4 linked regions of the Homo sapiens genome follow. The protein of the gene in region 4 interacts with the protein of the main gene of each other region in a pairwise test. Each region holds a gene or a part of one and is shown on either strand. Other genes may lie near its edges.

What was found.
Region 1: the proteins of SORBS3 (region 4) and RIN1 interact in binary tests that used the Homo sapiens proteins (3 or more experiments, as listed by UniProt).
Region 2: the proteins of SORBS3 (region 4) and SH2D4A interact in binary tests that used the Homo sapiens proteins (3 or more experiments, as listed by UniProt).
Region 3: the proteins of SORBS3 (region 4) and KIAA0408 interact in binary tests that used the Homo sapiens proteins (3 or more experiments, as listed by UniProt).

What each region holds. Positions count from the first base shown.
Region 1 is NC_000011.10:66,333,435-66,341,150, forward strand, and holds the start of RIN1 (ras and Rab interactor 1), read right to left. Parts: upstream 3,001-7,716; 5' UTR 2,969-3,000; coding exon 2,883-2,968; exon of another isoform or gene 2,857-2,882; intron 2,725-2,856; coding exon 2,544-2,724; intron 2,443-2,543; coding exon 2,328-2,442; intron 2,249-2,327; coding exon 2,176-2,248; intron 2,065-2,175; coding exon 1,973-2,064; intron 1,818-1,972; coding exon 1,080-1,817; intron 791-1,079; coding exon 485-790; intron 225-484; coding exon 93-224; intron 1-92. Other genes in the region: BRMS1 (breast cancer metastasis-suppressor 1), read right to left, coding at 4,234-4,455, 5,287-5,351, 6,687-6,779, 7,340-7,436, 7,533-7,612. UniProt on the Homo sapiens protein: Ras effector protein, which may serve as an inhibitory modulator of neuronal plasticity in aversive memory formation. Can affect Ras signaling at different levels. First, by competing with RAF1 protein for binding to activated Ras.
Region 2 is NC_000008.11:19,393,658-19,396,718, reverse strand, and holds the end of SH2D4A (SH2 domain-containing protein 4A), read right to left. Parts: intron 2,170-3,061; coding exon 2,077-2,169; 3' UTR 501-2,076; downstream 1-500. UniProt on the Homo sapiens protein: Inhibits estrogen-induced cell proliferation by competing with PLCG for binding to ESR1, blocking the effect of estrogen on PLCG and repressing estrogen-induced proliferation. May play a role in T-cell development and function.
Region 3 is NC_000006.12:127,456,387-127,463,275, forward strand, and holds the start of KIAA0408 (uncharacterized protein KIAA0408), read right to left. Parts: upstream 3,004-6,889; 5' UTR 2,789-3,003; intron 1-2,788.
Region 4 is NC_000008.11:22,554,906-22,561,940, reverse strand, and holds part of SORBS3 (vinexin), read right to left. Parts: coding exon 6,961-7,035; intron 5,227-6,960; coding exon 5,033-5,226; intron 3,813-5,032; coding exon 3,749-3,812; intron 607-3,748; coding exon 568-606; intron 77-567; coding exon 10-76; intron 1-9. UniProt on the Homo sapiens protein: Vinexin alpha isoform promotes up-regulation of actin stress fiber formation. Vinexin beta isoform plays a role in cell spreading and enhances the activation of JNK/SAPK in response to EGF stimulation by using its third SH3 domain.

The sequences.
Region 1 (7,716 bases), on a different chromosome or scaffold from region 4:
GCTCAGGCTGGGTGTGGGGCACCCCATCCCCTCTCCCCTTCCCTGCTTATTCAGGGCCCACCCAGACAGGGAGGTGGGTGGGGGTCCCTCACCCTCTCCAGTAAGCAGGCTGGGCTCCAGCAGCTCCGACATGTACTCGGCCTCCAGCAGCAGCTCAGGAAGGTCACAGTGGGCCAAGACGAGGCTCAGCAGAGGCAGGAACTCGTCGGCACCCGCGCCCTCCCCTGTGGGGACATGGTGAGAGGAAGAAGCTTCAGGTACAGTCCTTGCTTTAGGCAGTGACCCCTCCCCATGCCCTAGCAACCATTGAGGGGCTTCAGAAAGGATGCGCTCCTCTCTAGGCCTCAGTTTCGCCATCTGCAAGAGGGGAGGGTGGGCTCATTCTCTCCTGCAGGGCTGTTCTAGGGTCCTGGGGACCTGCCGCTGGGGGGCCCGCCTCTGACTCAAAGGGGCAGGGCAGGGTGAGGTGGTGGCAGGGACATACCTTCCTGGGTCCTCAGGGCCATGTAGAGCAGCTTGCAGGCCTGCAGGAGCCGCTTGACCTGGGCGCTGGGTGAGTAGGTGCGGAGCAGCTGCAGCAGCTTCTGGCGCACTTGCTCCAACTCTACTGGGGAGGGCAGGCTCAGGTGGGACCCGAAGGCTCCGGGGCCCTGGGCCCGGGCCAGGCGGAGGCCCTCAGCTAGGCGGCCCAGGGAGCCGTCTGCGGCAAGCCGGCGCCGCAGGCGGGCTGCCAGGATGGGCCGGAGAGGCTTGAGCACAGAGCAATGCAATGACTTCTCCAGGACATGTTCTGCCGGAGGGACAGGGAGGGGTCAGGGGAAGACTGGGGGTATGGGGGGCAGAGGCAAGGGGAGAAGGGAGCAGGGGTAGAATCGGGGAGGAGAGGCAAGGAAAGCAGGAGGAGGTAGCCTGGGTGAGACGGAAGAGTTGGGGGAGAGAGGGGATGGAACTCTCTCGAACAGTGGTAAGACAAGATGGATTTGTAAAGCAGCAGAACAGAATCAGACAGGCTGGCGCTGTGGAGGGGAGCAGAGGGTCGGATGGGGCAGTGCTGGAGCTATGGAGAGACGGAGCCTCACCCAGCCTCTTAGGCGACAGCAGCTTCTCAGGGCCCAGCTCCGCACTCAGCATGGCCCGGGCCCGGCTCAGCGCCTGACGGATGCCCTGCAGCTCCTGGGGCTCGGGCCCAGCCCGCACCTGGGTCAGTAGGTCCTGCACCAGCTGGCCCGCGGCTGTGTGTCGGTCCTGCATCAGTGCTGCCGCAGCCCGGCCCACCTGCCGCTCCGGTGCCAGTAGGGAGCAGAAGGCGGCGCTCATGGACCGAAGCAGAGGTCGTCGGCGGCCCAGGTGGGGTGAGGTCGCTGGGCTCCCCCGGGACCCTGGCACCCCCTCCTCCTCGGAGCTGCTGGGGGAGCCGCAGTCCACCTCTTGGAGGGAGGGCATAGGCGGAAGGCTAGGGCCACTGCCTGCTGGCACGCGGTACCCCACTGAGCTCTCCCTCCGTAGCAGCTGGCAAGGGGGCAGCCGCTCTGTCTGGCTGGGGACTGCCCCTGGCAGCACGGGGACGGGGGGAGGTGGCACGGCAGGTGGAGACAGGGGGCTGGAGGTCTCTGTGGACACGCGCACTTTGAAGCTTCTCTTGAATTTCTCCCGCTTGGTGGGCCCTAGGTCCCCCGGGAACAGGGGGTTGAAGAAGCACAAGGCGGCTCCGGTGCCCTGGTCCAGCTCTTGAGGGGACCGGGCCTTCAGCTGGGGCAACACTGGGCCTCCAGCCGGGCCCCGCTGAGCCTTGATGTTGAGGGAGGAGCTCCAGAACTCTAGGGAACAAGAAACCGACTGGGGCCTCCGGGACTGGTTAGGGGAAGTTTCCCAACCAAGGCAAGGCAGGGGCTTCGGGCGGTGTGCTGCGAGCCTTGCCTTCCCCTCGGCCTCAGCTTGTTCATCTGTGCAATGGGTGGCAGGAAGCCCTTACCAATGCCCAGATGGGAGATGGCCTCCAGCTCTTTGTGAGTGGCTGCGTGGTGGATGGCTCTGGGGAGCTGCAGCGGGAGGAGAAGGATGTCCCTGAGGCCAGAGAGGGGAGCAGAAGGGAGTGAGGGCCGAAGAGGGCGGGAAGGATGGGCTGTCCCAAGGAGCAGGGCCCGTGGACACCAGGCACCCTGCGGGCAGACTCACCGGGTGTGGCAGTAGGCACAGATGAGCTGGACTAGGTCTGGGAACATGAGCTCCGAGCCCTCCAAGGAGACGCCTGAGAGAGGAGGGAAGTGAGGTGCTTCTCTGGGGAACCTCCCTGCTTCCAGCCCCTTCCCGCCAGGCCAGCCCCTCACCGCCAGGGCTCTCCAGGATGTAGTGGCTGGAGACGAAGGAGGGGCCACTGGCTTCAGGCAACCGCATGCACAGGGCCTGGCACTGGCGGGTGTTAGATTTCCGCACGAGGAACGTCTGCAAGTGGATAGGGCTCAGGCAGCTCAGGACCTTGGCGTCCCATCCCTCTCCCTCCCACCCCTGGCTGGCCAGTCCCTGGAGTGTGGGGCAAGACTCACCCCCGGGGGCTCGGTCCTCAGCATGTGCAGTGCGGCCGCTGCGTTGGCTTGCAGCTGCAGCCACACGGGCCGGGTGAGCAGCAGGCGCTCCCGCAGGCTCACAACGCGCCCCGGCCGCTGCGGCCCGCCTGCCTGCCCGCCGCTGGCATTGGGCACGTCATACAGTGGGTCCTGGGCTGGCCTGGGGGCAGGCACCCAGATCTGAGCAGGGAGCCAGGGGCTGGGACCCTTGCTCTCCTCTTCCCCACTCCCGGGTTTCCCACTTTCTCTATCCCCGGATAGGCCCTCCTCTCGCAGCCCCTCCCTGCCCCACCTGGCTGCCCTGCCAACTTCACTAACTTTTCTCTCGCCAGGTGCCCAGTAGTGAAGCTGGACGGGCTGGGGGCTCCAGGAGAGCCCGCGCCTGACTCTCCAGGGCTTTCCATGGCTGGGAGCTCCTTCGCTTCAGGAAGAGAATCCAGTCCCAAGGCAAGGCACGCACATCCCCAGTGAGTAACACTTCCTGAGGGCGGTCCGCCTGTCACACCCGCCAGTTAACTCTTGTGTGTCCACCCTGCCTGGCCAGTGCCCGCCTCCTCTGTTCTGGACCCTGCTTTGGGGGTCAGGGGTCCCCTCCATGCTAGCCCTGCTCTGAGGGCCCCAGCTGGGGGATGCCACCTCCACACACGGCCTCCTGCAGCCTCACCAGCTACTCACATTGCACACGTGGGCGGGAAGTGGTTAAGCGGCCTCAGTCCCCACAGGCCCCAGCCATGCTCTGGGGGCACCTTTGGCTCTGTGGTCAGTTGCTCATCTGCCCCTGGCCTCAGGTCAGCCTTGTGGGAGAGCACCCTCTACTGTCCATAGATGACTCATTCCTGAACCTGGGTTTTAGGATTTTAGGTTGCCATGGAGAAAATATGCCATGTCTCCATGGAAACCAACCTATTTGCTTAACTGAGGTTCTGGGGGTGGTTCTGACACTCAGTGCTAACCAGGGGGAGTCTGGCTGTGAGGTCGTCAGCACATGGCGGTGCTGCCGGCTGCCTCCCACGCACGCAGGCTCTGCCAGCCTGCCTTGCCAATCTGCCAGGCAACTGGGACAGGTGCAGACATGACCCAGGCTCCAAGCACACGCATCCACCCTCCCCGCCGAGGCACTCTCCCGGTGCCATATGTTGACTCTGCCCAGCGCCAGGCAGCCCAGCGCCCACCTCCCCCTCCCCAGCCTGGCCCCACGCACAGTGCTCTAGCCTCTGCTGGGTAGTGTGAGGAGTGGCAATCTGCAGGCACCCTAGAAGTCGGCCTGGTTCAGGTGCTCCCCACGGGAGCCCTGATTCTCTTGCAAGGTAAATCACACACACACACAGGGCACGCCAGAGTCCCAGGAAAGGTTTTAATTCCAGTCCTTGGAATCTGAGAAGCAGACACCAAGAACTGCCCTGAGAACACCTGGGGGGCCTGGCATCTTGCCTCCAGATCCAGCCAGGGTGGACAGACCCCCAGATAATCACGTCTGACTCAGAGTTCCCGCACAGTGGAAACTGGCTCCCTGGCCCTGAGGCCGGACAGCCTGCATCCAACATCAGCAAGAGGATGTGGCTTTGACTTCGGCTGTCTTCTCTGTCAGGGGAGCCCCAAGAGATGGATCTTCAGGAGTGGGAGGTGGCAGGCGGCTCAGGGATGGAGACAGCAGCCTTGCCTGGTCAGGTCAGCTCCACGGCCACAGCTGTGCAGGCCTCGAGGAGGGCAGAGGAGGAGTCCAGGCCAGTGCCAGATGGAGTGGGAGGGCCCAGCAGCACCACAGGAGCCTGGCTGGGCAGACCCTGAGGGGCCTGTGGGTCCGCCTGTCTGCAGGAGGAAGACGAGAATCCTGGGTGCAGTGCCAGCTGCTCTGAGGGTCCCCCTGGCTGTGAACAGCAGGGTCAAGGTCCTGTGCATATGTGGGAAGAAGAAAACTGTCACCAGTTAGGAAGCTGAAAGGAAGGAGGCAGCCACTTACTGAGTGGCTTTGGGCTGGCCCAGAACAGGCCTCCTGGGCAGCTCCACAGCCCTCCCTGACCCCTCCTGAGTGGGAGCTCCATCAACCCAGAGCTTCCCCAGCCCCATCCTGGTTCCTGCTCCTCAAACTCCCACAAGCCCCTCAAATCTAGACCATCCTAACTTTCTTGAGCCACTGATTCTGACACAGTCACAGCCTTTCTCTGGGCTCCTTCCTGGAAGCTGAGCTGAGGAAAGGTGATGGCAAGGGGGCAGGGAAGGCCATGCAACAGCCATGGTTCTTACCATCCGATTTTCTCTTCTGAGGGGACACAGCTGCCCTAGCCTGGGTGGGTGAGAAGAAAAGCTCCCCTGAGAGCCCACCTCCAGCTTGGCAATCCCTGCCCCACCCCCCACCTCTGTGGCTTGTGGGCTGTTGCCTCAGTGCTGTGCCCCCAGGACCGGGAGCATAGGCCCCACCCAGGCAGAGCTCCCATGCTCCTGACTGCTGGCCAGCTCAGCGGCTCTCCCGCCTCCCCGCCACCCTCCCACCCCATCAAAACCTGCCCCAGAACGGGAAGGGGCTGACACAGACTAGAAATCCCTTTTCCCAGGGCCGCCTTGAGCAAGAGGACTTGTGAGCCAACTGCGATCCAGGGACTCTGGGCTGAAGATGGGGAAGCCTTGGTGAGCAGAGAACTCCCAGGCCTGCAGATGGCAGAGCTGCTGCCAGGGTGGGGGGCCCTGAGGTGGGGCAGGTCACGTGGGCAGCAGCGGCCCCCACCTTTTTGATGGCTGTCCAGTCCTCCAGGATGTCGATCTCTTGAAGCATGTACACGATGTATGGGCCTGTGGTGGGGGTCAAGGAAGCCTAGTGGAGGTGGCAGGTGACGAGGGCAGGGCCACCCACCTGACATTCAGGAGTGGGGGTACAGCGGACAGCATGGAGTGGGAGCTGAGGACCTGGGTCCGAGGTCAGGTTCCACCTCCTACCTCTTAACCCCCTGGTTCCAGGGGTCGTCCTGGAACCAAGTCTATGGAGGACACCAAATGTTGTTCCCTGTCCCTTGCTCACCCTCACCTCGTCTTAGGTCAGCTGGCTGAGGCCCATCCCATCTCACTCTGCAGCACTGGCCCTAACCTGGCCCCTTCCCTGATCCAAAGACAGACGCAGGGCTTATCCCTTCAGAGACAACTCTCCCTCCCCCAGTGCTCCCTACTTGATGTCTCCATGCCTTCACCTTCCATTCACTCAAGTCATGGCCTTCCAGATTCCTCCCTCCCTGCCTGGGCCTGCTCTCCAGCACCAGGTTGCCATAATGACTAAGACTGGCTGCTGCAGGAATACCCTCAGGGGTGCAGGAGGACTCAGCTCTGCCAGGACAGATGAAAGCACAGCAGGCCCTGGACTAAGCTTAAGCTAGCCCTGCCTAGGAAGGGGTGGAGGCAGCCAGTGCCCTCTGGGATGTGGGTACCCCATGGTAGGGCACAGAAGCACACAGGAAAGTGAAGCCATAGGCACCAGGGTAAGACCAGAAGAGGCCTCACAGAGGAGGTAACGTTTGAGATGAGCCCTGGACAGTCGGGACAGGCAGGACTTCCAAGAGGAGGGTGGGATATGAGCAAAGGCTCCCCAGGGAAAGCTGGGGACCCGCTCGGACAACCCCGGGAGATGGAAAGGCCTCAAAGGCCAAACCTCACTCAGGCTCAAGTGCAGTGGCACCATCACGGCTCACTGCAGCCTTGATCTCTCAGGCTCAAGCAATCCTCTTACCTCAGCCTTCAGAGTAGCTGGGACTATAGGTGCACACCACCACGCCTGGCTAATTTTTGTTATTTTTTCTAGAGATGGGTTTCACCATGTTGCCCAAGCTGGTCTCGAAAAGAACTCCTGGGCCCGAGCAATCTACCCGCCTTGGCCTCCCAAAGTGCTGGGACTGTAGATGTGAGCCACGGAGCCCAGCCCGTTTCTGTTTTCCTAGGGTTCACATAGCCCAGAGAGACCCAGGACCCCGTAAGAAACTGCTGACAGCTGGATTTGCCTGGACATATTCACATGACACCAAGCAACCACGAGTGCATCTAGTGTGACTGTCCTCCATGTCCCCTCCAACCCCCTCCCCTGGGTCTGGAGTTGACCCTTACATCCTGCCCACTTTTAGGCCACCTTGGGTGAAAGGATACCAGAAACCAGAGGTGCCTTCTTCCTCTTGCTGGGCGGCAGGGAGTCCCAAGACCTGGAGCTGCCTCTGGCGTGCAGTTTGTCATCCCACCATTCTGCCCCGAGACCCAGAGTTAGAATTGGGGTGCTGGCCCACAGGATACTCCCTTTTCTGTAGCCTCTGCCTCCACCATGGGCCGGCCTGGCCTCATCTCCCCTGTCCCATCACCACCCTGGGCTTGGGGTAGAAGCCCCTTAGGGCTGTTCAGGTCCTGCCTGCACAGCTGCACAACCCTGGGAAGAGGTCACTGCACTTCTGTGAGCCTCATCTGTTTAGTGGAGAGTGGGATGACGACAATTCCTGCCACCCCAGGACTCCACGTGAACACAGGTACTATGAACATGGAGGGGACTAGAGCTATTGCATGTGACTGCATGTCACACTGATACCTGTTTTGGAAAGAGCAGGGGCAGAAGAGGCAGGGAGACCCACTCTGCTTGAGCCCCCATTATGTGCCAGGCCCTTTCCAGGCCTGGTCTCCTTCAGCCCTCACACTGACCCCAACAGGCAGGTCCTCTGGCTGTCCCCTTGACTTCAGGACATCTGAAGCCCAAAGAGGGGTGGGCGTGGACTGAGCGGGGCCCAGTTCCGGGGTGCCCAGGCTCTCGCGCTTACCAGAGCTGAGGTCCAGGCTCTGGCGGTCCTCCTCCAGCCTCTGGATCCGCTCCTGCAGCTCCCCCTGCAGCGTGTCATAGAGCAGCAGCTTCTCACTCTGGAAGAGGGGGCAATAGCTCAGCAGGACGGATGGGGTGAGGCCACTTCAGGCTTTGTGCCCTGCCTCACCCCCAGTGTGCCCAATCAGGCCCACCTCCAGGTGCTGTTTGGCTCCCTGCAGCTCACATTCGTACTTATTCCTGATCACATCCAGACAGAAGCCCTTGTAGATCCCTGCAGAGAAAGGGAGGAGGGTCCCTGCTTGGCTGGGGAGCCCGGTGCCCACATAGGAGGGCTGAGAGCAAAGGGCAAGGCCGGGCAGGAACGAGAGAGGAAGG
Region 2 (3,061 bases), 3.2 Mb from region 4:
AAAGATCACCCAGTTGAATCATATTTTTTTTTGTTCAGAAGCAAAAACTGAGGCTCAGAGACAAACTGTCCTGTCCAAGATTATACAGAAAATGGTAGGAAGAGTTGAGAAGTTTCTCAATAATGCCATGACTGTTGAATCATAGGAACAAAAGCCAAGAGATGGATCCTTACAATAGTTTAACAATATAAACCACATGGAACATTTCAAGAAAGAGTTAAACAATGATCTATGTTTAAAAGCTATCTCTACCTGGCATAGTATCTCACATCTATAATCCTAGCACTTTGGGGGTTTGAGGCAGGAGGATCGCTTGAGGCTGAAGTGAGCTGTGATCGCACTACTGCATGCCAGCCAGGGTGTCAGAACAAGACTCTGTCTCTAAAAATAATAATCACCATCATCTTTCTCATTAGAACACACATGCCAACCATCCCCTTCTCTGGCTACATTTTATAGTCAATGAGTGCTGTACGCAACCAACAAGCTTGTAACAACACTGCTGTATCATTCTGCTTTTATTAGAAGGCAATGTAAAAGAGTATTGACCTACACAGTTAGGCCAGAGGTACTAGCCAATCTCCATCCTCCAAGAAAAATGATCTCCAGTGGCTCAGAGCCACCTCAGTCCCTGTCCAGAGGCCGTTCGCCTGACTGGGACTGGACTGAGGTGGGCGGGGGTTCCAGGAGGGCATAAGATTCCTGACGGGACAAATATGTGTGCCAGGGCTAAACAGAACTGGCTGGAATGTTTTTCTTACCTCCCATTTCTACTTCATTATGAAAATGGTGGACTGGGCAGCAGTGAATGGGTCGATCTTGTGTGTCAGGTTATGTAATTACATAAACGACTGTATTAGCTTTCTGGGGCTATAGTAACAAGTCAGCATGAACTCAGCATGAACTAAGCAGCTTAAAACAACAGACATTTATTCTTCCAGTTCTGGAGTCTGGAATTCTGAAGTCAGGGCCATGCTTCCTTCTAAGGCTTGTGGGGAACCTGTCCCATGCCTCTCTGCTGGCTTCTGCTGGTGGCCGGAGATCCTTGGTGTCCCTTCCCTTCCGGCTGCATCACTCCAACTTGCCTCTTGTCCCCTGGTCTTCTTCCCACTGCATTTGTGTCTATTACCAAAACTCTCTCTTCTCCTAAGGATGCCAGTCATTGGATTTGGGGCCCACCCTAATCCAATGTGACCTCATCTTGACTATATCTGCAAAGACCCTATTTCCAAACAAGGTCCCATTCACGGGGATGGGGGTTAAGACTTCACCATATATTTTGGGGGAACACAATTCAACCACAAGTAGCATCCAAACAGCCTGCTTATTCTGTTCTTGTCTAAGCACTTCTGATAAAAAATAAAAAAATACATGTACAGATGCTTTATCCTTTTGGTGCACTATAGAGTATATCCAGGGGAGGCCAGGCCAGCCCCGGCCCCATTCTCCCGAACAAGAAAACAAACTCAGCGATGTTTGCTCACTTTCCTGCAGGTCCATCTGTATTTTCATGCATGTTAAGCCTCTCATTCAATTTACATTCATGACTTCTGTTTTTCTATGTCTCTCATGTCCTGGTTCCAACATGTACAATAAGTGAGGTGTGTTTTAAGCATCATCTCAGCCAGGAAAGGCTTTTGCTACCATTCCAAAGCCAACATGAAACTTCGAAACTTCATGTCAACAGGCCCCTGAAACCTCCTGAGATGATACAGAGGGAGTGCAGGGGTCATATGATAGATATTCGTTTTCAAGTACACCTTAATTTCTAAAAGTTTTCCATTTCTTCATTTGTTTTATTTTATGTACATCATTAAGGTCATACCCTTCATGACAGGTACTTGCTGAAATTGAGACTCTTCTCCCTTTTGAGCAGAGGTCATTTTCTCTTGACATTGAATTCCAGTATTTGTGCAGAAAAGAGGTGTCAATGAGGACTCCATGGATACTTTACTTTCAGTTGATCAGTATTGGCTCTGCTGCAGGGTGATTTTGGCTTCACACATAAATGTTGCAGTGGCATTTGTCCAGGGGAAAGCCCGCTTGGAGGCTGTAGGATGACCCTGATGGAGGCTGTCACTCAAACAGCTCCAGGTAGTCAGGCAGCTGGTCCTGCTGACCACAGGGATAGAGAAGGAGCTCCTTCCCCAGGGAAGTGATGGGTTCCTCCTGTCAATCAGAAGGCACGGGGTCAGATAGTGTAAGTAGTGACCACATGCTCTTCCTACTTCCTCAGAGGACATCACTAGCTGCCTACCCATGATTTACACAAAGCTTTTGTGGTTTATGATCATCTTAAAAGGCATTTTTCTTATCTACATGTGACCAGGTACTCCTTTCCCTTCAGGGCTTGAATTCTAACTTAAGGCCTATGAATTCTCATAGGTCAGGGGTCCCCAACCCCAGGGCCATGGACCAGTACCAGTCTGTGGCCTGTTAGAACTGGGCTGTATAGCAGGAGGTGAGCAGTGGAGTGAAGCTTCATCTGTATTTACATCTGCTCCCTGTCATTCACATTATCGCCTGAGCTCTGCCTCCTGTCAGATCAGTAGCAGCATTAGATTTTCATAGGAACACAAACCTTATTGTGAACTGTGCATGGGAGGGATCTCAGTTGTGCGCTCCTTAGGAAAATCTAATGCCTGATGATCTGTCACAGTCCCCCATCACCTCCAGATGGGACTGTCTAGTTGCAGGAAAACAAGTTCGGGGCTCCCACTGATTCTACACTATGTTGAACTGTATAATTATTTCATTATATATAACAATGTAATAATAAAATGCACAATCAATGTAATGTGCTTAAATCATCCTGAAACCATCCCCCAACACTGAGTCCATGGAGAAATTGTCATCCAGGAAACTGGTGTCACAAAGTTTGGGGATTGCTGTCATATGTGATCCATGTGGGTACAGCTTTTATTTTTTTGTTTTAGCATTTCCCGTATTCTCTGCCCCAGTGGGGTTCCCTGAGTATTTAAGGAAGAACTAGGTTCTAAGATAAATGAAATGTGATTAACAATCCTGATTATCAGGAAGAATTATCAAAGACAAGCCCCCA
Region 3 (6,889 bases), on a different chromosome or scaffold from region 4:
TGCCAGGCCTTTCTCTTTTTAACCTACCGGAAGATCATTCAGGAATACCCTAGATCAGTCTTGCTCTTGATAACAAGACTATATCTAAACCCAGGTAACAGTCCTGAAGCAGACCGAATCCTGCACCTATTTGCAAAGAGCCAAACTCATCCCTTAATATGGAGAAGGACCAATGTATGGAGCTTTTCCTTTCCAGGCCCAGAGCAATTGCTAGTGCCAAGAAATGTAATAGTTATGGATCAGAAACAAGCCTTTGCAAGAACATTTCTATAGAGCAATATCTGTGCCAATTTTTTGTGGAAGGATTTGGCCTTCTTAGCATCTCAGTCTTGTCGTAAATATAATGTTAGATGTAACGCAGCCAAACATATTGCTTCCACCTCTAAATATAAAGTGGTGGGGGGGGGGCATAGAATTGTTTTGGAGATTAAGTGAGCAAAAGGGAAAAATGCTTAAAAGAAGTGCCTAAACACTGCTCTGGATCATAGCAAATGCCTGAAAAATACTTGGTTCTTGTTTTCTTCCTTCTGTCCTTTGTTCCCTCCCTTCCTCTTCTTGTCTTTCCTCCCTCCTTCCCTTTCTCCTCTCTTTCTCCATCTATCCCTCTCCATGTTGTTCTCTGGAAAAAAAACAGATTATTTTGGTCTTTATTTTAAAACGAGATAGAAGCAAGTGTAATTGTGTGAACTCTCATATTCTCCATGATCTTCTTTTGCCTTTTTTCAAATATTTTAAAGATACATGTCACATATTTAAAGAAAAAAGTTTTATTGTTAATAAAAATGTGAACAAATCTTATGTAAAACTGCTTTTGTTATAAATCTGACTTAAATATTACAAAAAATATCAAACTGAAGGGGCAACTTTGTAGAGATAGAATGTTTCGTAATGAGAAGTTATGGGGTAAAGTGGTTCAGCAGATTCAAAAACTCAATTTAAGTGCTCTCTACTGGGGCAAAAATAAAAGTTCTTTTTGTTCCTAGTTGTCACTCATTTTCTCCCACAGATACTGGCATCTATGTGGGAGAGAAGGAAGGATTTCTGCTATCTGCATCCCCTACCCCATATCTCTTTGGCTCTCCAGTTTATGTTCTTCCTTCTAGAATTCCATTTCAGAATAAAAATTTATTAGAGCAAATGTAAGAGGACAGAGTGAGCTGCATTACTTAGTCACACACCCCAACTCTAAACCAGCATTGCATAATCCCTTTTAACTTACTTCCCCTTTCCAGGGCTGAAAGCCAGAATTATAAAGAGTTGTGAGTGGGTTGCATAAGTATGGTGATGGGAGGCAAATAGTTCTGCTAGCCTTCCGGCCCTACCAGTAAGCAAAGTTTAAGAGTAACACACAAGTCTCACAAGAAATTATTTTCACCCCCAAATTAGCCTCAGTTTGGTCATGGCAGCAATTCTTTCTCTGAGGGGTGCTCCATTCTTAGGACACCTGGGTCACTACCCTTTCAACCTCCAACTCGCCCATTGAAAACTGGACTGCATCCAAACAAACTAAACAGCGTTCCTTAGGGGCAGCTGCTCCATTGCTACTTCTCTCTTTTTAGATTATTGTTTAGAGTACTTGTTTCTTGCTGTCCTTATTTCCTTTTGCTAAACATATCACTTTTCACATAATTAAAGATTTTTCATTTATAAGAGGTTACATATTCCAATAGAAATGCCACACACAGTAGGTACTGCTAATCTCACAATTCCTAGAAGACTCATTTGGCCTGAAGATGTTTTGCTTCTGCTTAACTTTGATGGATTAGGAATTCCCCAGCTTATAACCTATCAGAGTAATGTACCATTTACCTCCTAAATTCTCTATCCCTTTCTCCAGGCTATTATAATCACTTGAATTATTTCAATGAATTAATAAATCTCATTCCTCTCTATTGTTCACTTGCAATTGAATCTTTCCAAAGACCACCATGATTTGATTTTGTTAGAGTAAAAGGGAAATTTTTTTCATTGCTGTGTATTGCTGATTTAGCACATTCCTCATGCTCCAACAAGGTCAAAGAGACACTACCACATGCAATTCCGAATGAATCAACTTTACCGTTTCATTTAATTATCTTCTTCCTTGTTTTCTTTACAGTTATTTACTCAAATTAGAAAACATCCAAGCTGTATGCACACTGATTTTACTTATAAAATGCAAACTTTAAAAGCAAACATTTGGTTTGAGTAAACAAATGTCTAAAACTAACCATCGTGAACAAAAGACATAGTGGTAAGTTTCCCTCCTAAACGTAGATTATTCAATTATGAATGGCATAGACTTCAGCTCAAATTACAGAAACACTAACTCTACAGTGAGTCCACCACCACCTTAGATAAAACTAAAATTTATTTTTCACCGCAATTTTCAAATACCAAGTCTCCAGGATTGTGACCTTTAATTTGCAAATGTTAAAAGTCTTTATATGAATAAAAAAAATCACATTTGAATAAATATACTTAGTGAAAATCAATGATGGGCAAAGTGCTTTTCAAACAACTGAGAAGCAGTGTTGGAAAAACAGTCTCAAAGAGCGGATGGTACTGTCAGTCCACAGTTGGGAAATCCACCCTGAGCAGCTGAACAGCCTTTTTCCTAGGAGTCAGTACAATCTGTTATGCACCCCGCCCACTGTTTTTAAGCCCAGACACAGACAACAGCAGAGACAGATGTTGAAATTACACTCCACTTAAACAGTATCCATAGTTTAAAACATCTCAACAGCAGCCCCTTTGTATCCTGCCATAATTAGTCACTTGCTTGTAAACTTGCCGGAAAGAAACATACCTTTCACACTGGGGAGAAATCCTATGGATGCTCGACCACTGGTCAATTAGCAGTGGAAGAAAGTGGATGGCTAGCTGTCTTAAAGAGAAAAGTCTCAGCTCGGTGAATCTCGATTCTTTACAAGAAAAGGGGATGCAAAATAAGTCCAACCATTCCACAGAGCAGTACTGACAAGTCCCTTTGAAACCTTCACCACTTTTACAAGTCAAAAAGCTGCTCAGCTTAGTGTCACAGCAGCAGCTGAGACTACTGTGACGTCAGTTACTTGGAGGCGGCCTTCAAGCCACCTCTTCCAACCAGAGCTCTGTAACTTTAGAGCAGCTCATGCTCTGGGTAAACAACTCCAGGTCCAGGACATTTTTAGCTTTTATAATGGAGCCCAGTATTTTCAAACTTGCCAAAAGAGCTGGTTGTTAACATCATACAATGACAATGGCCAATTTTAGATTTATTTTATTAGGAAAGTAAACTCATTTTTTTATAGGCAAGAATTATCTCCCTCCTTCCATAATTCTTTCTCCTTCTCAGCTGGTGGCAGGATGTACTCTGCTGCACCTTTAGAAGTTTGCATCTGGATGTGGCAGAACAATATGTGTAGCATAATTATATATATTATGCACTCTCAAAAGATCTGTGAAAGTTATCAAACTTCTATCTTCAAATAAAATAGAAATGGAACATAAAGTCCAACCTCTTAGCTCTCTGTGATTCTGACAGTGTGTTGCTTTTATCTACAGTAGTAGCGATGTCTTTACGTTAGAGAAAATCAGAGCCCATGGGAAAGGATGAGATTTCTTATTGTGGGAGGACAAAACACACACACACACACACCCCAAAAATGAGATACCTATGGGCTTATTTTCCACTAAAGTGTGCTGCAGCCATAGGAAGAGAAAGCAGCCTAAGTGTATGGAAAAGCTCTCTAAATCATGATCAAATCAGCCTGTTCTGAAATGCTAGGAGATCTTGCCTCCCCAGCGACATTTTCAGGTTTATTGTGGCTTTGTACACACATGCATCTGATGATATTTGGTTTAATTTAGTCAAAAAAGTCTCTAGAGCAATTTTTTGCCTAACTTAGCAAATACACAAGTTTAAACAATAAGGTCTTATCTTCAAGTCTGAAGAGCTTCCCTGGTGTGGTCTTTAAAGTAATACATATTCACTCACATTATTTTCACCTGCTTCCAGATAAACATTTCATGAGGAGCTAAAGTTTAGTAATAGTAACCTGCTCACAGTAGGACTTTAATACATGTAGGACAATCAAATGAAACCATACTCTGTGTCTGGAAAGCCTGACATCATAATCTCAACAGCAATAACAACAATAACAGTGATAGTTATAGTAATAATAGTGATTATTCACTGAGGGGCAACCCTCTGCAAGGTTCTGTGCTAAGTACTTTGAACAGACCTTTATCTGAGTTCACCCTCAGAGCAATTCTGTCTCTAGATACTGATAATCTGATCTTACTGATAAAACCCAAGCAAGGCTCATTGTGGTAAAGCATCATGCAAAAGTTCATAGAAATGCACCCATGTGGAGGAAACGGGTTTGAACTGTTTTGTCTGATTGCAAACCATGGAATTTTGTCATAGAGATCTAAGTTTCAATTCTGCTGCCACCACTTATCTGTGTGATCTTGCAGACCCTGATTCTTCCTTAAAGACATAATTATATTTACTTTAAGAGGCCATAAGAATATGAGGGAATATATATAGCGCCAAGCACACAATAAAGGGTAGCTCATGTCTGCCTCCATGCTTATGAGGCTAGGAAGAAGATTCTTTGAGAGAGGGAAAGGGAGGAGGGAGTTGCACAAAAACATCAATACAGAATTGTCTTAACATTGTTTCTGGCCGGGTGTGGTTGCTCACACCTGTAATCCCAGCACTTCTGGAGGCGGAGGCAGGTGGATCACATGGGGTCAGGAGTTCGAGACAAGCCTGGCCAACATGGTGAAACCCTGTGTCTACTAAAAATAAAAAAATTAGCCGGCTGTGGTGGCTCAGGCCTGTAATCCCAGCTACTAGGGAGGCTGAGGCAGGAGAATTGCTTGAACCCGGGAGGCAGAGGTTGTAGTAAGCAGAGATGGCATTCCTGCACTCCAGCCTGGTTGACAGAGCAAGACTCTGTCTCAGAGAAACAAAACAAAAAACATTGTTTCCTTTACCTTTTCTTCTACTCCAAACTTCTTAACTTCTATGTATCACTTGTAAATCAAACTAAGACTATTTTGTAAATCCTATCGAAAATTCAGATAGTATGTGTCTAAGTTACAAGAGATGTTAGGTTGGACTATACTTCCTAAGTGTCACTCAGTAGTACCCATTTCAATCTCTTTTAATGGCTGTCCCAGTGTGATTGTCCCAGGGCAATCACAAATAATTGCCCTATGTTTTAGAAAGAATTATGTCATTCATACCTGATGACATACTAATTTATTTCAATGTATATCAGATTCAAGTGCTTCATCTGCTTCTTGTCATGGTAAAGCTGATCTTAAATTGTACACAGAATCAAATAATAATGAAAATCTTTGACAAAAAGTTTACTCCAAGTTTACCACTTATTCTAGTATTTACCAACTTTTTCTGTTGAAGTTTATATATATATAATTTATATTATATGTTATTTATATAAAATATATAATTTCCAGGCCATATTTCATACCCAAAAGACAGAAAGTAAGTCAATTAGGTGATACGGTGCAAAGTCAAGAAATGTTCAGCACAGCTTTTGATATTTTCCCTTGAAAACTTTTTGTTTTTTAAGAAAACTTTTAAAAGAAAATTTACCACAATTATATACATAAAATGAATGCATTTAAAAGACTGATGCTGGTATACTCAGCCCTACAGTTACATTCAGACATCTTGAACTGCCTGAGGTTTTCAAGCAGGTGTCAGAATGACTGAAAATCTTATGAAAAAAATGCAATTTGTTTTGTAATGCAGTTTTTCTTTAAACCATTTGAACATTTAAATCTTCAAATATGAAATTCACAAATGATTGCCCTATGTTTTAGAAAGAATTACATCATTCATACCTTATGACATACTAATCTTATTTCAATGTATAACAGATATGTAAAGAAATGTACATAATAACACTTAATGGAAAATAAATGTAGAAACACTGCCTGCTGTCAAGAAACAAAAAAGAAAATTCTAAAAAGAAATGGAAAAGATCTATATTAATAATAATATTAAGGCACAATCAAAAACATTTTAAAAAGGGTAAAAGAGAACTAATGCGTGCATAAATGTCACTAGCAGGTGTTTCCAGACTTACAGAATTTTAGAGCCAGAAAGAACTTCTGAAATCATCTAGCTAACCTTCTCATTTTACAGTTGAGGGAAGAGGCCCTGAGAGTAACTCATCTGCTCAAGGTCACAAAGCCACTTAGTGGCCATTCCAAGAATAGAATCCAGGTCTCCTCATTCCTGGTGGAGTGCCTTGAAGTTCAAAATTCCAAGAAGTGCAAGGGAAGAAAATCGAAATAAGAATGCTGGATATGAGAGGAGACTGAGAAGTTGATTTCTGGCTTTGGCAAATTTTAAATTCAGTTTTCTTCTATGTCCAAATGAGAGAGAAGATACTCTATCTTTCAAGTATGACATAAGAATCATATAGCTGAGTATTTATTTATTTATTTTTGAGATGGGAGTCTTGCTCTGTCACCCAGGCTGGAGTGCAGTGGCGCAATCTCAGCTCACTGCAACCTCCGCCTCCCAGGTTCAAGTGATCCTTCTGCCTCAGCCTCCTGAGTAGCTGGAACTACAGGGGCATGCCACCATGCCCGGCTAATTTTTGTATTTTTAGTAGAGACAGGGTGTCACCATATTGGCCAGTCTGGTCTTGAACTCCTGATCTCGTGATCCACCCGCCTCGGCGTCCCAAAGTGCTGGGATTACAGACATGAGCCACTGTGCCCAGCCAGCTGAGTATTTATTACTATCTAAAGAGGCTCGTGTCCTTAGCTAATTGTAAACACTGGGTCAAAATAAAAAGGCAAATGGATTTTATCTTAGCAGTTAAAAAATCTGAAGATAAACATGGCAACATGGCCTTAAGCATGCTAGTGCCAGTACATA
Region 4 (7,035 bases):
TGTGCTCACCCACTGGAAGATGTTGCCGGGCCGGGCCTGTGGGCAGGTCTTTGCTGGGCTCCTAGATGCCTGGGGTCTGCAGAGGAGGTACACGAGGAAAGCATTGAAGGTGGGAGGAGACAGGCCGTGACTGGGGCTGAGGGTGCCTGGGTGATTATTTAGAGTTTCAGCACCACCCCCTTGCTCCTGGGTGGATGGTGGGGGCAGGGTGGTTGGTGCTCAGGGACACTGAACGCGGGCATTGCCCTCAGAGCTTTACGACATTTACTACATCTTCAAAACAACTCCGAGTAGGTGATGATCTCATCTTATAGATGAGGAAAGGGAGGCCCAGAGAAATCCCGGCCAGGGAGTGGCAGAGCGCGCGTTCCCCGTGCAAGCTGAGGCTGTTAATTACCACCTACCGGGGGATTTGAAGTGCTCTGGAAATGAGCTATAAAAACCTCTCAGGTTGAACTGAGCCAACTGGAGAGCCCCAAAGCCAGGCGGGGCTGCGAGTCCCAGCCCCAGGGAGGGGCGGACGCAGGCGCAGGGCTATGGCAGGCAGGTGGGCCCGCATCCCCTCACCTCTGGGTGGCTCCTCGAAGGTCCAGTCCAGCTGCAAGTCTGCAGGAGCAGAAGGGACCAGGTCATGGGACGGGGCAGAAAGCAAGGGCAGGGTGCCCTGGGAGGCAACCTCAGCCGCTCCCAACATCCCTAGAGTAGGGGGCTGAGGGCTGAGTCAGGGCCTGAAGAATGTCCCAAGGGAGGGAAGGAATTAGGAGGGCAGCTCTCTGGAGGGCTTGAAATGCCTCTGGCAGGCTTGGGGCCTAAGCGAGCCAAGCGGGCAGCCGCCTTGCCCAAGCCCTCCTGCTCCTCCCTCCCTGTTCCCACACACACCCTCTCCTGACCTTTGTGGACTTGCCCTCACCACTCAGGCTGGGGAAACTCGACTTGCACCCTCTTCCAAACGCTTTCCTTCCCCATTTGCCAAGACCCACTCCTAGCTCCTCAAGGTGCCTGGGAATTTCTGGGGCTTCCTGGAAAGAGCTACTGACCCACTGCTCCCCACGGCGCGTGCGCGCGCGCACACACACACACACACACACACACACACACACACACACACGCATGCGCTGCAACGGCACCTGCCTAAACGCCAGCCACATCACCCCTCACTGGACCCCACACCCTCCTCTGACTCCTGGATTTGTCTGCTTTCCCCCATAGTAAACTGTAACCAGTGACCATAAAGACCACACCATCTCCAATCCCCCTACTCCCCGTCTCCCTAAACAGGCTTTTGCTCACCACTGCCCAACCACTCACTCTTATCAAGGATGCTGGTGACCTCCACGTTGCCAAATCTGACAGTCAATTCTAAGTATTCATCTTACTCAACCCATCAGCTGCATTTGTCACCACTGGTCACATTTTTCTTTTGGAATTCCCTTTCCACTTGGCCCCAGGGAGATCTCTCCGTTTTCCTCCTACCTCCCTGGCTCTACCTTCTCAGTTGCCTTTTTGGTTCCGCCTCATCTCTCAAACTTCTAAGCATCCAGGTGCGTGGGGGCTCAGTCCTGGGGTCTGTTTGTCTCTCTATCTCCCTAGGTGATCTTGTCTAGTCTTATGGATTGTTGTTTTTCAGAGACGGGATCATGCTATGTTGCCCAAGCTGGACTTGAATTCCTGGGCTCCCAGGAATTGAATTGAACTCCTCAGCCTGCCAAATAGCTGAGACTGCAGGTGTGTGCCACCACACCCAGCTAGTCTTAAGGCTTTTAAAACGCCATCTATTCCCATGTTTCACAATCTTGGCTGCTAGTTAAAAGTTTAAAGTTTCCCCACTAGAATTACTGGGGAAACTTTAAATCAAAATCTCTCTCTTCTTTTTTTTTTTTTTTTGAGACTGAGTCACCCAGGCTGGAGTGCAGTGGGGTGATCTCAGCTCACTGCAACCTCTGCCTCTCAGGTTCAAGCAATTCTCCTGCCTCAGCCTCTGGAGTAGCTAGGATTACAGGTGCACACCACCATGCCCAACTAATTTTGGTATATTTGATAGAGACAGGGTTTCGCCATGTTGGCCAGGCTGGTCCCAAAATCTCTTTTGAATGAGTCCCAGGTATTTCCATCTGCAGTTTTAGACCTTGTCCCGTGAACTGCAGACTTGGATATTCATCTGCTTACTCAACCTCTTCACTCAGAGGGAACATGTGTCTAAAACTGAACACCTCTTTTCTTTTTTTCTTTTTTTTTTTAGAGACAGCGTCTTGCTCTATTGCCCAGGCTGGAGTGCAGTGGAATGGTCTCAGCTCACTGCAACCTCCGCCTCCCAGGTTCAAGCAATTCTCCTGCCTCAGCTTCTCGAGTAGCTGGGATTACAGGTGCATGCCGCCACATCCAGCTACTTTTTTGTATTTTTTAGTAGAGATGGGGTTTCACCATGTTGCCCAGGCTGGTCTCGAACTCCTAAGCTCAGGCAATCCACCCACCTTGGCCTCCCAAAGTGCTAGGATTACAGGCGTGAGCCACCGCGCCCGGCCTGTGAATGCTACTCCTACAGTCTTTTCTGTTTTGACAAATGGCAACTCCAATCTTCAACTTGCTGAGGTTTAAAACCATCCTTGACTCTCTCTTCCAAGCCACGTCCAATCCATCAGCAAATTCCAGTGACTGCAGTGTATTCAGAGTCTCATCCTGTCCCACCAGGGCCACTGCTACCGCCCTGGTCTAACACACGATTATCTCTCCCCTGGATTGAAGCAAAGTTGTAAAGGTGGCCTTTTCTCCCTAGCCCTTACCAGGCAAGGGAACTGGTTCCACCATTCCTTTCCCACCCCACAGCCAGGCACAATCTTTTCAGCCATTACTTGTCAGAGCATGGCACTCTTCCGCTCAGTGGCTCCTCCTTATTTGCACCGTAAAAGCTGAAGTCCTTATAATGGCCCACAAGGCCCCACGTACCCTGACACCACCACCTCTCTGACTCCATCTCCCACCACATGCTCCTCGCTCCAGGCCAGGCTCTCCTTGCCCGTCCAGAACATGCTTCTACCTCTGGGTCTTCGGAGCTCCCTTTGCTGGAATGCTTCCCCCAGCTCTGCCAGGCCGACTCCTTCACTCCCTCCATGGTCTGATCAAACACCGCTTACAAATGACCTTCCTGGCCGCTCCTGGGTGAAGGAGCAGCCTCCCTGCATGGGGCACTCTCCCAGTCTGGCTTTATTTTTCCCTAGCCCTTTCCACCATCTGTCATGTCAAAGGTGTGTCTGTTTATTGTGTGACTTCCTTTGATCTTTGGCACCTAGAATAGTGCTCAGCATGTGGTACATGCTCAATAGATGGTCAAGGACTCACTGAATGGATGGGTGACCTCGGAGCCAGCTCATAGGCACCCCCAGGGTTGGCTGCATTTTGAGTTGTGGAAGAAAGCAATGCCTCCAGTAAGGGAATGACCGCTAACAGTGGCATTCCAGCTTGGCAGGGAAATCAGAGAGGGACTTAAGGAAAGGAATGGCTTCTCAGTCCCCTCAGAGGACACTGTGGGACAGTGGCTGGTCAATGTTCTTCTTGGGGATGCTCTGGAGACCGCTGCTGGCCCCGAGTACAGGGAGGGGACTGCCTATTTTCAGGACTACTCATTAGAGCCTGGGAGAAGGTGGAGAAGAACCCCTTGAGCAGCTAAGTCCCCTTTTCTTTCCCTGTCTCTCCAAGCCCCAGGGGCCAGAATCCACTTTGGCAGGGAGAGGGCCCTGGAAGGGTATCTTACCTGGCATTTTCCGGTGAATCTGCTGGAACATTCTCCGGTACCAGTCTCTGGGTCTGTCAACGCTCTGGGATCAGAAAATGCAAAGTCAGTCCTCCCTGCTTATTCACCCTCCCAATTTCAAGCCACAAAAATCTTTCCCTAGTGAGTCCCTTCTCTGGCCATCCCTGAACCCCCCATAGGTGGGCTGGGAAATGCTTCTCTTGCGATCTCTTTAATAACAATAGCTTCATGTAACACGTCCTATATAAGTAAGATATATGACAAGATCTCCATCGAAGTGTATGCAATAATGATGTTATGAGATTTGGGGCAATTTACATTTTTTCTCTTTGCTTTTCTTTATGTCTAGTGTTTCTACAAAGAACATTTTTCTTTTGTGGGGAGACAGGGTCTCCTGTGTCACACAGGCTGGAGTGCAGTGGCATGATCATAGCTCACTGCAGCCTCCAATTCCTGGGCTCAAGCAATCATCCTGCCTCAGCCTCCTGAGTAGCTGGAACTACAGTCGTGCACCACCTTGCCTAGCTAATTTTATTTTATTTTTTTTTTTATAGAGACAGGGTCTCACTATGTTGCCCAGGCTGGTCTGGAACTCTTGGTTTCAAGCAATCCTCCCGCCTTGACCTCCCAAAGTGCTGGGATTACAGGCGTGAGTCACTGCACCTGGGCCAAAAATGACAGCAATAATGTAGGAGTGAGATGCGTGTTTCACATCACCTGCTTCATCCAAGCCTCAAAACAGCCTCAAAACAGGAAGGGAATGTTACCAGCTCCAATTTCCAGATGAGAAAATGGAGCTGGCTCAAGACACAAAGGTGGATGGAAAAGGGCAGGGTATCCCCAGTCCTAACTGGACCCCCGGATCCTTCCACGCTTGCCACAGTGAGAGACCTTCTCACACAAGACTCACTCACTCATTCGGCCGGTCAGTCATTCATTCAGCAACCATTTCATGAGCGTCGTGACAGGCCCTGGGGATATGAAACTAAGAGAGGGTCCCCTGCAGCCTCAGGCCTTACAGCAGGGGTTCTCTACCTTTGAGGCCCTGATGAGAGTTCTAGATCTGTACCCCGCACAAACCACTTGAGCAACTCAGGCACACGAGGGTGTCTGCAGCTTTATGAGGTTTACAGCCGCTGAACCCCACCACGGTTGAACCCCTGCTTAATCTGGGATGGTTTGGGTGCGGCCTTTATTGCCCCACCCCCATTTTAATGCACAGAAGTGCAGCTCCCTGTAGATCCCTGGGCCCCATCTCTCCGTGGCCCCCAGCCCTGGACTCACGGATCGGGGGGCAATGGGCATGCCGCTCTCGTCCACGGGCCCGATTCCCTCGTACTTGACCCAGCGCTTGTCCCGACGCTTGCTGTCCTTGGTCCACGTGGCTGACCAGTTCTGGGTGTGCTGGGAGGCAGGGATCTTTGTGCTTGCAGAGGGCTTGCTCCCAGGGCCTGGCCAGGTCTGATACCACGCAGGGTCTGTTGGGTGCGTGCAGGAGAGCATTAGTGAAAGGCAGGGGTCTCCACCTGAACCTGTGTGTCCCTTAGCTCCTCAGAGCATGGATCTCTGTGGGTTCAAAGTTTCAACATCGCCTTGTTTGTTTGAGTGGATGACTCAGAGCACCACGGGCCTCTGTTTGTTTAAGTGAATTTAAATGGATTTGATCTTGAGAATGCCGTGCCTGGCCCTACCCCCATCCTTCTTTCCTGGGACTATCCTAAGTGCTTTCAGAATAAGGTCTGGAAATCATTACTTGTAGAGAATGCAGGGGACATCCCAGCTGGGGTGTGGCAGTAAAGATGCTGGGCTTAGAGGGGACAGACTTGAATTCAGACCCCAGCTCTACCACCTATTGGCTGCCATGGCCTGGGGTACATCAGTCACCTTCTCAGTGTCTCAGTTTCCACTTCTGTAAAACAAGGGTCATTGTGACAAGGATTCAGTGACATCTAGCGTGTGTGACTGTACCCAGCACAGTGCCTGGCACACAGTCGAGAGGCTCTCAGTGAAGGTCAGAAACCCATTCCCCAGACATGGTTGTGACTGAGTCCTCAACTTACCCATAAGTGTTAGCCTCTAAGTAGCTAGGGCAGCAGAATAAGGGCTTTGAGGCCAGATGTACAAGTGTGTGAATTGCAGCTCAGCCTCTATGGCTGAACATCTCTGCGAATGGGGTTCCTTACTGGGAAGCTGTCAGTCATCATCACCCCTACTTTGTCAGGATATCGAGGGGTTAAACGAGGTGAGCCTCGTAAAGTGTTTTTACAGTGTCCAGCACGCTCTGGGTGTTCCATAATTGTGTGGGTGTTTTTTTTGGTTTTGTTTTGTTTTTGTTTTTGTTTTGAGACAGTTTTGCTCTTGTTGCCCAGGCTGGAGTGCAGTGGCACGATCTCAGCTCACTGCAACCTCCACCTCCCAGGTTCAAGTGATTCTCCTGCCTCAACCTCCCAAGTAGCTGGGATTTCAGGCACCCGCCACCACACCCAGCAAATTTTTGTATTTTTATTAGAGATGGGGTTTCACCATGTTGGCCAGGCTGGTCTCGAACTCCTGACCTCAGGTCATCCACACACCTCAGCCTCTCAGTGTGTGTGTGTTTTAAGTGACAGGGTCTTGCTGTGTCATCCAGGCTGATAGAGACAGGGTCTTGCTATGTTGCCCAGGCTGGATAATTGTTAAATGAATAAATTCCTTTACACAGCACCTGTCTTAGGGGAATGCTTGATAAAGGATGTCACTTTAGGAGAGACATGTTCAGGGCTGGCCTGCACCCAGGAGTTCCCAGGACCTCTGGACTGGGATCTAGAACTGCCTCTCTAACCTCCTGCTGGGTAGCCTGTTGGGCCTGAATGGGACAGTCTCCACCCCTTCCCAAGCCAACAGATACCCACATCACCTCCACCCTTCCATCCCCAGTCCCTGTGGGAGGTCCTCCGGCGCCCAGGGCTCCTGCACGCTTCCTTTCCCTGGCACCAGGCTGGAGGGCAGGGGAAGGGATGCATCAGCCTGCTCTCCCCAAGCGGGTGTCTCTTGCAGAGTCAGCAGGCTCCGCAGGGAGGGGCTCATAGTGAGCCCAGAGGCCTCTGAGGAACCTCCTCATGGCCTTGAGAACCCCATCTCCAGCTGCTGCCCCTCCCGCTTGACACAGGGCAGTGCCAGATGGCAGGGCCCTGACCCTCCATCTCCAGCATGAGGCTCCTGAGCAGACCTACCCGGGTGCTGGGAAGCATCTCGTCTTGGTGTGTAGCCCCCATTGCACACAGTCCTGGGCGCGGGGTCGTGGAACT